Regions from separate parts of the Homo sapiens genome. Here region 2 is linked to region 1. A link means that fine-mapping ties the variant in region 1 to the expression of a gene that starts in the linked region. Tissue or cell type: whole blood. Region 1 holds a variant in brackets; the other region holds the start of a gene. Each region is shown on its reference strand, or each on the opposite one. Region 1 overlaps TENT5C (terminal nucleotidyltransferase 5C). Region 2 holds the start of TREML1 (triggering receptor expressed on myeloid cells like 1).

What was found. PIP is the estimated chance that this variant, and not a neighbour inherited with it, causes the effect.
Region 2: it holds the start of TREML1, and the variant in region 1 is fine-mapped to the expression of TREML1 in whole blood (TOPMed, PIP 0.94).

Annotation. Positions count from the first base shown.
Region 1 is chr1:117,627,478-117,632,851 of GRCh38, reverse strand. It overlaps TENT5C (terminal nucleotidyltransferase 5C), which reads right to left. Exons shown (of 2, transcript NM_017709.4): 2 at 4,463-5,374. Among named protein-coding and RNA genes, the nearest start is that of TENT5C, 24 kb to the right of the region's middle. RefSeq lists enhancers at 1,443-1,993, 1,994-2,544. The variant T/C (reference allele first, on the strand shown) is at 2,936.
Region 2 is chr6:41,151,911-41,157,284 of GRCh38, reverse strand. TREML1 (triggering receptor expressed on myeloid cells like 1) reads left to right here and starts at 2,938. Exons shown (of 6, transcript NM_178174.4): 1 at 2,938-3,039; 2 at 3,195-3,527. The coding sequence starts at 2,997.

The sequences.
Region 1 (5,374 bases):
TAAGCCTGCTGAAAAGCTGCCTCTTTTGCCAGAGCTAGAGAGAGAGAGGGAGCACCTCTCCTGCTGTTCCTGGTCAGATCAGGTGAAGGCCAAGGAAACTGATCTCTCACGGTAGGGGGAGGGGATGAAGGGCACAGGGACAACAAGGTACATGCAGTTGACTTAAGAGCAGGGAAAAAACCACAGAGGAATGTTTTGTGTGGGATCCTGAGATAGCAGGGGATATGAGGACCAGAGGCTGCCGCAGACCATTCACAGCCACCCAAGCGCTGCTTCTCCCAGGCTCCCGCTTACCTGAGCCAATGTAAAGATTCTTTTCAAAAAAGTCTTTGCTAGCTGTAGTGTTTATTTAAGGATAAGATGACCCAACTTCCACTATATTTAGTGCATGAAAAACCACAGGTGTTTGACTCCAGGAACTGCTTAGGGTTGTGCTATTAGTTTTCTGACTCCCCTCCCTTCTTGGTTTCATTGTTTCAGCATTGCAGGTGAGCTGGTTTCCTGACTTCTGCAAAAGCCCTCCTGCACTCCCCCGCCCTCCTCTCCAGCCTGCAGGTAGTTTAAATACCCCCATAGTACATGGCTGCCTGGATAAGGTGTGGGGGAAACTGTGATGCTGTTTCCATTTCAATTCTAATTTAAAATGCCATGCCAACCACAATAGGCACCCTATTTTAACTTCATCAGTTGGCTTAATTTTTAATTTTAACTAATCAATTTAATCAGTGGCTTTGTCCTCCTCCTCATTCCTCTTGAAAGGCTTCTGTTGGAAGGCAGGATATTTGCTCTCCCGTGCCTCTTCCATGTGCCACCCTGTAAAATGCAGGACAAAGACAAAATAGCATACTGTAAAAGAACTGACAGCTGGAGCCTGGGAGTCAGACACCCCAGAGCCAGGTGCTGGCTGCAGCAGCTGTATGACGTTTAGGTTTCCTCACCTGTAAACCTAATCATCCTATCTCAGACTTTTTGGAAGATTAAATGCTAATGCTTAGCATGGGACCTGGTGCTCCATGAGCATTCCCCAAACATGTTAACGAGCCTGCAATGGGTCCCCCCACACCTGATTCACAAAGGGAGGGTTGTCTGAGGAAAGCTGCTGGTTTGTCCAAGGAATTCCTTTCCTGGATAAGTGGAAACGGATCTATTACCAGGCAACTCAACACCTCTTAGGCCCTTGAGAGGGGGCTGACATAAAAACTAATATTTGCAGGGTGAGTTATAGTTTACAGAGTGTTTTCAGTGTTGTAATAGTGGGGGAACCAGGCTTTGCAGTCAAATCTTTGTGCATGGGCTCTGTCTCTTACAAGATACGTAACCCTGGGCAACTCAGAGGCGCACTGAGCCTCTGGCTCCTGTGTACAGTGGAAACACTGCTACCTAGCTCACGTTTCTGAGACCTGCAAGCTATGTATATGCAATGTGTACTTGGTCAACCTAAAGCCTTAGTCTAAAGTGAGGAGTTCTCATTCCATTTTCTCATGGGTTTAGTTCCCAACAGGCCTCTTGAGAAAAACCTCATTTACTATCCATATGGAAGGGATGGATTGAAATGGCTGAAAACAGCCTGGCCAAAGTTGCTGTGGTGCTGCCCGTCTCCATCTCTCTCTCTCTCGAACACTATAGCCTCGGATACCTTTTTTCCAGGGAAGCACCCGAAAGAAAGGCAGCGACTCCAGCTTCTCATGCCTTTCCCTTAGGGACATTTCCCATTTTCGGAAACTTCCTAAGTAAAAGGTGGCCCTGGGATGGCCTGCTGTGGTGAAAATGCCCTGAGCTGGGAGACCTGTGATCCAGTCATGGCCAGAACAGGTAGCCTGCGTTGCTCTGAGCTGGGTGAGGAATGGTATGAAACCAAGCCTCCCGACAGGCTCCAGCTCCCTAGATTCTGGGCGGCACTGACAGAAACCTGCTTGAGAGAGTGATGACAGTCAGAGTACTGAGGAGTGGCTCACCGCCAGGGCAGCACATGCTTCTAGGTAGCATTTATCCCCAGGGAAGGACACAGTCCCGTGTTGCAGAAGGCACAGGGCCAGGAGGCAGGAAACCAGCACCGTGGCCCCAGGTCCAATGCCGTCACTTCGGACAGGAAGTCGCTTGACTCAGCTTTTAGGCAGGGAGCAGGGGTAGACCACTCAGCCCAGTCTGGGCACCACCCCTGACTTGCCTCTGACTCCACCTGCCATAAGTGCATACGGAGCTGAAGGCCTCTGGAGAGGATGAGGCTCCAGGCCAAGGTAAGGTGGCAGAATGGCACCATCACACTGAGGCTCTGGCTGCTCAGAGGTCATATGGAAAACCCCCACAGGTCCTGCTGATGCTCTCAGCATCTTCCAGCTGATACTAACCCCAGATTACAACCAAGCGCATTACTATCCCGCCCAGGCGACTACTCGGACAGTGAAGGAGAAAAAGAATCCCCGCTCGTTTAGAAGTGTACTTCTGGAACCCTAGAGGTCCCGGGTGGCAACGACGGGAGCTTCATTCCAAGGCTGAGGAATGAACACTTGGGGATGGCATGAGAGGAATTCTACTAAAACACCAGAAGGATAGGTCTGCCAGGAGGACTGGGTGGGTGGGGAGTTTGAAATAATACTGCTGAGCGTGAAGACTGCAACCCTTAGTACTGACCTTGCTCAGGGGCCAAGAGCTTGTGTTCAATTGTGTTAGTGTCCGGGACATGACTACTCATTCCAGGAAGCTGGGCACCAGCACATCCCACACAAGTTGTCCTGCGTATAAATATTGGTCTGGACAAGGGGACTGAAATGGTTTCTGGCACCAAAATGAGGCATTACAACACATTCAGGTAAATATCCAGGATTCAGCCTCTAAGTGGCTAATGGCCCAAGGACAAGTCCTCCAGGGAAAACCCATCCAGTTCAACATTTGAAGCACCAAATCTATGCCAGTTATGTGAAAAGTGGGCAGAGAA[T/C]GAAGCACGCAGGTGTTCACAATGTGGGTGAAGAGCTGATGCAACCCAGTAAGAACACGAATAGAAAAAGCAGGAAGGGGGAGGTGGCAGACATAGGGCCTGGTAAGCCAGAGGAGGTGAGGATTAGCTGAGATTTTAGAAGCCTGCTGTGGGGTCACGTGCACGGAAGAAGCTGTGTGCTCCAGAACTCCAAGTAGGCCAGCTTAGTATAGTAGGTCAAAGGATAGGAAGGTAGACTGGGGCTAGCTAGCTCCAGACATCTGCTCTTGCACAGACATGTTGAGTCTGACATCTGCTCTTGCACAGTAGGGTCTTACACAGGTTTTAATGTATGGGAGGGGCCCAGGCACATCTGTTTTAGAAAAAGCCCTTGACAGAGTCAAGAAAAATAGAGACAAGACTCATGAAATAGCCCAAGCAAGAGCTGAAGGCAACCAAGAGGGCAGAGTCAAGGAACATTTCAGAAGGTACACGCAGTAAAAATGGGGAGGAAGAAGATCGTGGGGATGGCTGATGGGCAAGCATAAGATCAGAAAATTGCTCTTCAATGATCCCAATTCTTGTAGTGAAAAGAGAAGAATGTCACCCCAGCCTTCATGAACAGTTCTAGATCCAGACAGTGTCTAACCGATGTGAGTAGATGACTAGAACAGAGGTAGTCCATCATAAAGCTAAAGAGGCCACTGACATGGATGTGGATGGGCAGAATGAAGGGAGGAGTGAAGAGGCAACATGGAGAGTGTGAGCTGGCAGTCAGGGCTTAAGAGGAGTGAGGGTTACTTATTGAGTAAACATGCCAAAGAAGTGATTGGAAGGACTCCACACCTACCAGACTCCAGAGCATGCACATCCTTGGCTGAAAGGTTTGAGGAGGAGCAGGGACAGGTGGAGGCAAGGGGATGAAGGATTTTACACAGCCAAAGACATAAGTTTCATGAGGACAGTTAGGAGAATGCCATAGGATTTCAAAGAAATTCCACAAAGAAGGGAGGCCACGGAAGGGGCAAGACTTGGGGTGGGCAGGGGTTGTTGTGAATTAGATCAAAGGAATGAGGAGGAAGGTTGCTAACCAAAGTCTACAGCATCTCTTTATACCCTTCAAACATCTATCAACCACTCCAAGTATCACTTGTTCACTTCTATACTTCTTTAAAAATGTGAAGAAACTACAGTAGTTGTACATGTATGGCTGAAGTTGTTTTCTTTGTTGTTGTTGAAGTGGGCTAGGAGCTAAAGGGACTGAATTAAACAAGGTGCCAGCAAAGGCGAACTGCAAGACTACACCTGCCGTGGGTATTAGCTGAAAGGCTGTGGTCAACAACGAAGCCTAGTTTAAGTTAGCTGGGCACCTTGAAAAAGAGCCCAAATATTAAGGGATTTGTGGTCTCCAAGGTAACCACACAGCCCTCCCCCCTCAAAAAAGCATCTGTCCTTCAGAGAAGCATCCAAGGCTGATGTTGACAGCTTCCTATTTCTATTCAATGTTTCCTAAAACCTAAAATTCATCATTGAGAAGAAACAAATCAATGAGCATAAATGACAAGTTTTATTTAAATTTTAAATATACCTTTATTTCTCAAACTCAAAGCTTTATCAAGTTCTAACACATTTTGCATTGACAAGTGATTTTATCTGCATCAAGTAAGGTTAGTGACCACCACGAAAGAGGAATCCCCAGACCTCCTAGGCACTAAGAAATATTTCAAAGGCTATGCAAATATAGAACAAAAAGCTTTCAATTTAGTCTAATTGGTATCTATTTTTCATCTATATTAATTTGGAAATAAGTTGCTACCTTAGAAAAATTACATTTTTATCCATTAAAATAAAACACCAGATAGGTTGAGTTTTTTTAAAAACACCCACAGATCTGTATTTAGCTACTTCCTCTTTAGTAGATGGTCATCTCACCTTCCTATGCAAACACACACAAGAATTTGCACCAACTCTCACTAGCCCAGGCAAAACTCCAAGCATTTTATTTAGCTTACACTTCAATTATTTTTTTAAAGTGATAGGTAAACAAGATTTAGGCACTTGAACACACACACGCACACACACACACACACACAGTCTTTTATTTCCTGATCTTAACCTTAGAGTTCTCCACAAATAATCCTGAAAAGTTGCCAGATCTTTAAAAATACCTCTCCTCAACACCGCCCCCCTCCCCCACGACTTGGTCCTCTGATTTTAACTGGTTGAATTGGAATATGTTCCAAAGCGAGCTGTGAAATTCTAGTCTCTGCAAGATTAAGGATGTGAATCTAACCTTGGAAACTGGATTCTTACAAAGTCCACCCAGAAGGTTTTCCCTGACACAGAGCCCTGGTCCGACACCCAGGAAGGAATGGCCTCTATGAGCGTCAGGGTCTCGTCTCACCATTGGATAACTACTTTGCTCTCAAAAAGAGGACATTTGAGCTAAGAATATAGCTG
Region 2 (5,374 bases), not on the chromosome of region 1:
TCACTAGGATGGAGCCCCTGGCATGGCCCTCATGTTCCAGCCTCACTTCAACATGTCACTCCCCTGGTCCCAGCTGTGCCCCAACCCTGCCTTGTCCACTCCCAATGTAAGCTGCTCCACTGGCTCCCTGTCCTGGAGCCTTGGGATTCTGGTCCAACCTGTGTTCCCATGGCCTCCCTGGCTCAGGGGCACATTAAACTTCCTCATTGTGTCCTGGGGCATTGCCCCCTTCCTATAGATCTAGGGCACAGGTAGCACCAAGAATGAGCCGAGCCCAAACTGCGCCTTCTCCACCTACCTCCTGCCCCAGTTGTGGGCACCAGTGCCGATGAAATGGCCTGGGAGGCTCCCCGCGGCCTGCCTCGTGCTCCAGGGCAGTGGCTGCCATCAGCCCCAGCCCAGAATCAGGCTTTCCTCCTCATGGGAGCTTGGCCTTTTCTCTTTCCTTCTCTGCCATGTCAGAGACATTCCTCTCTGGACTGGAATCACCACAGGCTCTCCTGCCTCAGACTCTCTGCGAGCACTCTGGACTGAAGGGAAGTGAGGCCATTTGGCCTCAAATTTCAACTCTGCCTCCTATTAAGACACCTTAGGCAAGCTCCTCAATCCCTCTAAAACCCAGTGCCCTCGCTTGTAGAAACAAATAAACAAAACAACCACTTCCCCTACTTTGCAAGGTTTTTGTGAGGTTGAAAGAAATAACATTCGTGGCCAGACATGGTGGCTCACGCCTGTAATCCCAGCACCTTGGGAGGCTGAGTGGGGTGGATTACTTGAGGCCAGGAATTCAAGACCAGCCTGGCCAACATGGCAAAACCCTGTCTCTACTAAAAAAAAAAGAAAGACAAAAATTAGTCAGGCATGTGGTGCATGCCTATAGTCCCAGCTACTTGGGAGGCTGAGGCAGAGAATTGCTTGAATCTAGGAGGCCAAGGTTGCAGTGAGCCAAGATTGCGCCACTGCACTCCCGCCTGGGTGACAGAGTGAGACTGTCTCAAAAGAAAAAAAAAAAAGAAAGAAATAACATTGTGAAGGTCCTTGGCCAGGTGACTGGCACATAGTAGGTCCTCAATAAACACTGGTTTCCTTCATCTAACGCCCAGCAACATGATGTCTCCATGAAGGCCAGGATCTTGCCTGGTCACCTCTGTCTCAGCACCCAGCAGTGGACCATATTCAACACTTAGTCCAGTGTTGAATACAGTTCACCTCTTCACACAACACGCCTGGGTGGCTTGTTAGTATGAAAATAACTTTCTTATAAGGAAATCAAAGAAAGCCTGATATGCATTGGCAAGACAGACATAAGCACATCACCAACTAGGGTGACCCGTCCTGGTTTGTTCAGGACTTTTTCAGTTTTTGCACAGAAAGTCCCAAGAAACCCCTCAATCCCAAGCAAAAACGGGAAGTTGGTCACCCAATCTCCCACTTCCACAAGGCCCAGCTTAACACATTAACTGATTTTCTCATGCTCCTGCTCCCAGTTTCCCATTCCTCACTCCCTTGTTCCCAAAGGAAGGAAGGAAAAAGAGGAAAAAAGGTGAGACGGGAGGAGATGGGAGTGAGGGAGAATGGCCTTTCCAGGCCCTTTTCTAGGTCTTACCCTCCAGATTAGGGCAATACGCCCCTCCCACCCATCCCCAGCTGCTGTAGTCTCTCTGACCACTGGTGCTTCCCCTGTGTCTGAGGTCAGATAGTTTATTAGGTTTATTACTCACACTTTGTCCCAGTTCCTCGAGCCCAATTCCACAGGGCAACATGAATGAGAGCCAGGTGCCTCCTGTGCAGGCAGTGAGTTTGGATCACAGGAGAGAAACCCCCAAATTAGGAGACTTGGAGTTTATATAGAGAATCTGGTATATCTTCCTCTCTGGAAGAGAGAGAGAGAGAGAGAGAGAGAGAGAGAAACGTTTACTCTGGAATGTAAATCTCCGGTGAAGAAGAGGAAGAATGCGAGCAAATCTCTGGACGTTGCACTCAAGGTATGTTTGCTATTCAATCACCCTTCAGCAAAACTTGGCCAATACCCTTTGCACAGAAGGACTAGAACATGCAGCAATGTGAAAATATTTGTGAAGAATTGTCTTCCAACAGAGAAGATAGAGCATTCATGAAACAAAAATAGTATGCCAGAATTTAAAAATGCTCAAAGAATAAGGAATATCTTGTCTTGTAAATTAAAAATATTAAAAAATAACATTTTAAAAGACAAAAATAGAAGGATGGAAGAAAATGAGGAAATCTCCTTGAAGGCAGAACAAAAGAGACAAAAAGATGGAAAATGAGATAGAAAAGATATGAAAATGAGATGAACACACGACATTCAATAACCAACTAGTTAAGGAATTGCAGAAAAATGGAAGGGGAGAAGAAAATGGACATGTAATTATCAAAGTAAGAATTTGTTTCCCAGAACTGAAGAATGTGGATCCAGATGGAAGGGTTCTATAGTGTCCAGGACAATAAATGAAGAAAGACCCAGTCCAGGGCACAGGATCAAGGTGAAACTTCCTGTTTGAGGTTGTACTGCATACAACCTCCTAAAAGCTTGGGTGGTCGTGGGGCACTCCCAAAGAATTGAGAGCAAGAATGGCATTGAGTGAGGTGCAGGGCACTCTACCTTCCTCCTTCATAGCTGTGCACCCTCAGATTCTGTATTAGGAAGATCCTGAAGATCATCTTTCCTCTTCCTCTCCTGTCCTCCAATTGTCACAATCCTCCCATCTCACCCCTTAGCCGGGCCCCAGCCCCTGCAGGCTTCTAGCTTTCTTCGGGTCTTCTCATCCTGTCTTGCCCACCCTTACCCTCAGGGCAGTTCCTGAGCACTGAGCCAACCAGGGCTTGGAAGAACTCCCTTTCCCCACCCCTGGAGGTGCCCATCATTTCCTTTCTCCCACCCCAAGTGACTTTCTGAGGCAGATGTTTCCTGCCCTCAGGCGAATGCTGCATCAGTGCCCAGGCAAGCCCAGGAGTTGACATTTCTCTGCCCAGCCATGGGCCTCACCCTGCTCTTGCTGCTGCTCCTGGGACTAGAAGGTAAGGTTCAGGAGGAGCTGCAGCTCTGGGCCCCATATGCTCAGCCCCATGTCCAGGAGTAACGTGTTATTGTGAATGCCACACCCATACCAGCAGCTGGGCTGGGAGATGCTCCCAGCTCCTGCCCAAAATTCCCACCTCCTTTCCTTCCCCAGGTCAGGGCATAGTTGGCAGCCTCCCTGAGGTGCTGCAGGCACCCGTGGGAAGCTCCATTCTGGTGCAGTGCCACTACAGGCTCCAGGATGTCAAAGCTCAGAAGGTGTGGTGCCGGTTCTTGCCGGAGGGGTGCCAGCCCCTGGTGTCCTCAGCTGTGGATCGCAGAGCTCCAGCGGGCAGGCGTACGTTTCTCACAGACCTGGGTGGGGGCCTGCTGCAGGTGGAAATGGTTACCCTGCAGGAAGAGGATGCTGGCGAGTATGGCTGCATGGTGGATGGGGCCAGGGGGCCCCAGATTTTGCACAGAGTCTCTCTGAACATACTGCCCCCAGGTGAGTTATCCTAGGCCAGCTACCACCCCTTAGACCTACCCTCCCCACCCCCGCCTATTGCCAGGGCTCATGGGTTCTTGAGGAGTGGGGGCCCCTGGGGAGGAGGCATTCCAAGGAGATATCCTCTTGACAGCTCTGCAGGGAGCGGAAACCAAACTGGGTGGGAAGTCTGAGATAAATCAGCTGAAAACCATCCCTTTCCCCCTTCCACACTACTGCGCTTCCCCACAGGAAGGCATGTCCTTCCCACTCCAGGGACTTGGCCTCTTCTTCCAGCATTTTCAACATACTTGATGCTAACTTATTTTTTAATTAGAAATATTTTAAACAATGTTGAATCTGAGTGTATAAAACCAGAATTAATTTTTGTAGCTTCCAGTGTTTTATTCCTGTAATAGCGGGCTTGATGGCTTAAGAATTATGGAATTCATACCTTAATTAATTTTATAAGTCTTCACAGGCCATCTAGTATGTCTCACCTACAAGTAGGTACATTCAGTGCCTGAACAACTTCAACTCCTTTCGTTTTAAAAATGGAAAAATGTCATTAATATTTTAAGCCAATATTCTTGACCCTATTTTCAGTATTAAAGACACTGTTTTTGCAGGTTTCATTCCCACAGCCCATAACTTTTCTAGTATATAAGCATTTGTTAAAAGAAAATTTTAAAATATTAAAAACTTGGGTTTTTTTTTTTAAGAAAGATAGGATGTTCTAAAAATAAAAAATGGTCAGCTACCTGAAGCACAGACAGCCACTCCTTTTCTTTTATGGATACTGGCCATTTTTTCACCTTTAGGTCTTCCTTTTCTCATATTTTATGCCCAACCCCCAAATAATAAAATTAAGTAGAGCATTTTCCCTTCCCTTGTTTTTTGTTTTGTTTGAGACAGGGTCTCACTCTGTTGCTCAAGCTGGAGTGCAGTGGCACTATCGGCTCACTGCAACCTTGGCCTCTCGGGTTCAAGTGATTCTTGTGTCTCAGCCTCCCAAGTAACTGGGACTACAGGTGCCCACCACCATGCCCAGCTAATTTTTGTATTTTTAGTAGAGACGGGGTTTTATCATGTTGGCCAGGCTGGTCTTGAACTCCTGACCTCAAGTGATCTGCCCGCCTTGGCCTCCCAAAGTGCTGGGATTGCAGGTATAAGCCACCACCCCTGGCCCCTTCCCTTGTTTTTTTTCCCTCTAAATAAGAGGGTAGACTATGTTGTCATTAGAATCCTTCTCATCTCAAGCCTGTGGTTATTGTTTTATATTATAAATATATTGTTAATCCTTGTCATCCTTTGCCCTCCTCATTCCTTGACACTTTGAGTTACTAAATTCAGGTTCTAACTCACTAAAAGGCAAATTGTGACAAGATGAGACTCCCTGGGAGGAGCGTCAGGGAGGCAGGGACCTGGGCCCCTGACCTGCTGCCATGGGGCAGGTGCTGTGGAGGATGATGTTCAGGCAGGCAGGTGGCGCGTAGCATCCAGAGATGATGTGGCTTGCGGCTCAGGTGAGCATTTAGCTTCAGAGAAGGTGGTCAAAGGCAGCCTAATAGGCACCAGGAGGGCAGGACATGTGCCACAGCAACCCCAGTTCCTGGTGTGGCATAGGATGGGGAGTAGGAATGGTGAATCTCTCAAGAACAAGGCAAGGCCCCATTCCAGTCGGTCTGAAAGGACTGGCCAGGTTCCTAAGACAAGTCTCCAGGCCCAGAGAAACCAACCCCAAGTCCTGCAGCCAGAAGTCAAGCACATCATATGGGTGACAGAAGCCTTGTCCTCAAACTGAGTCTCAGGATCCCAGCAAGGCTCTCAGCAAGGGTCAGTTGGTTTGTGTTGCATCACATGAGGGC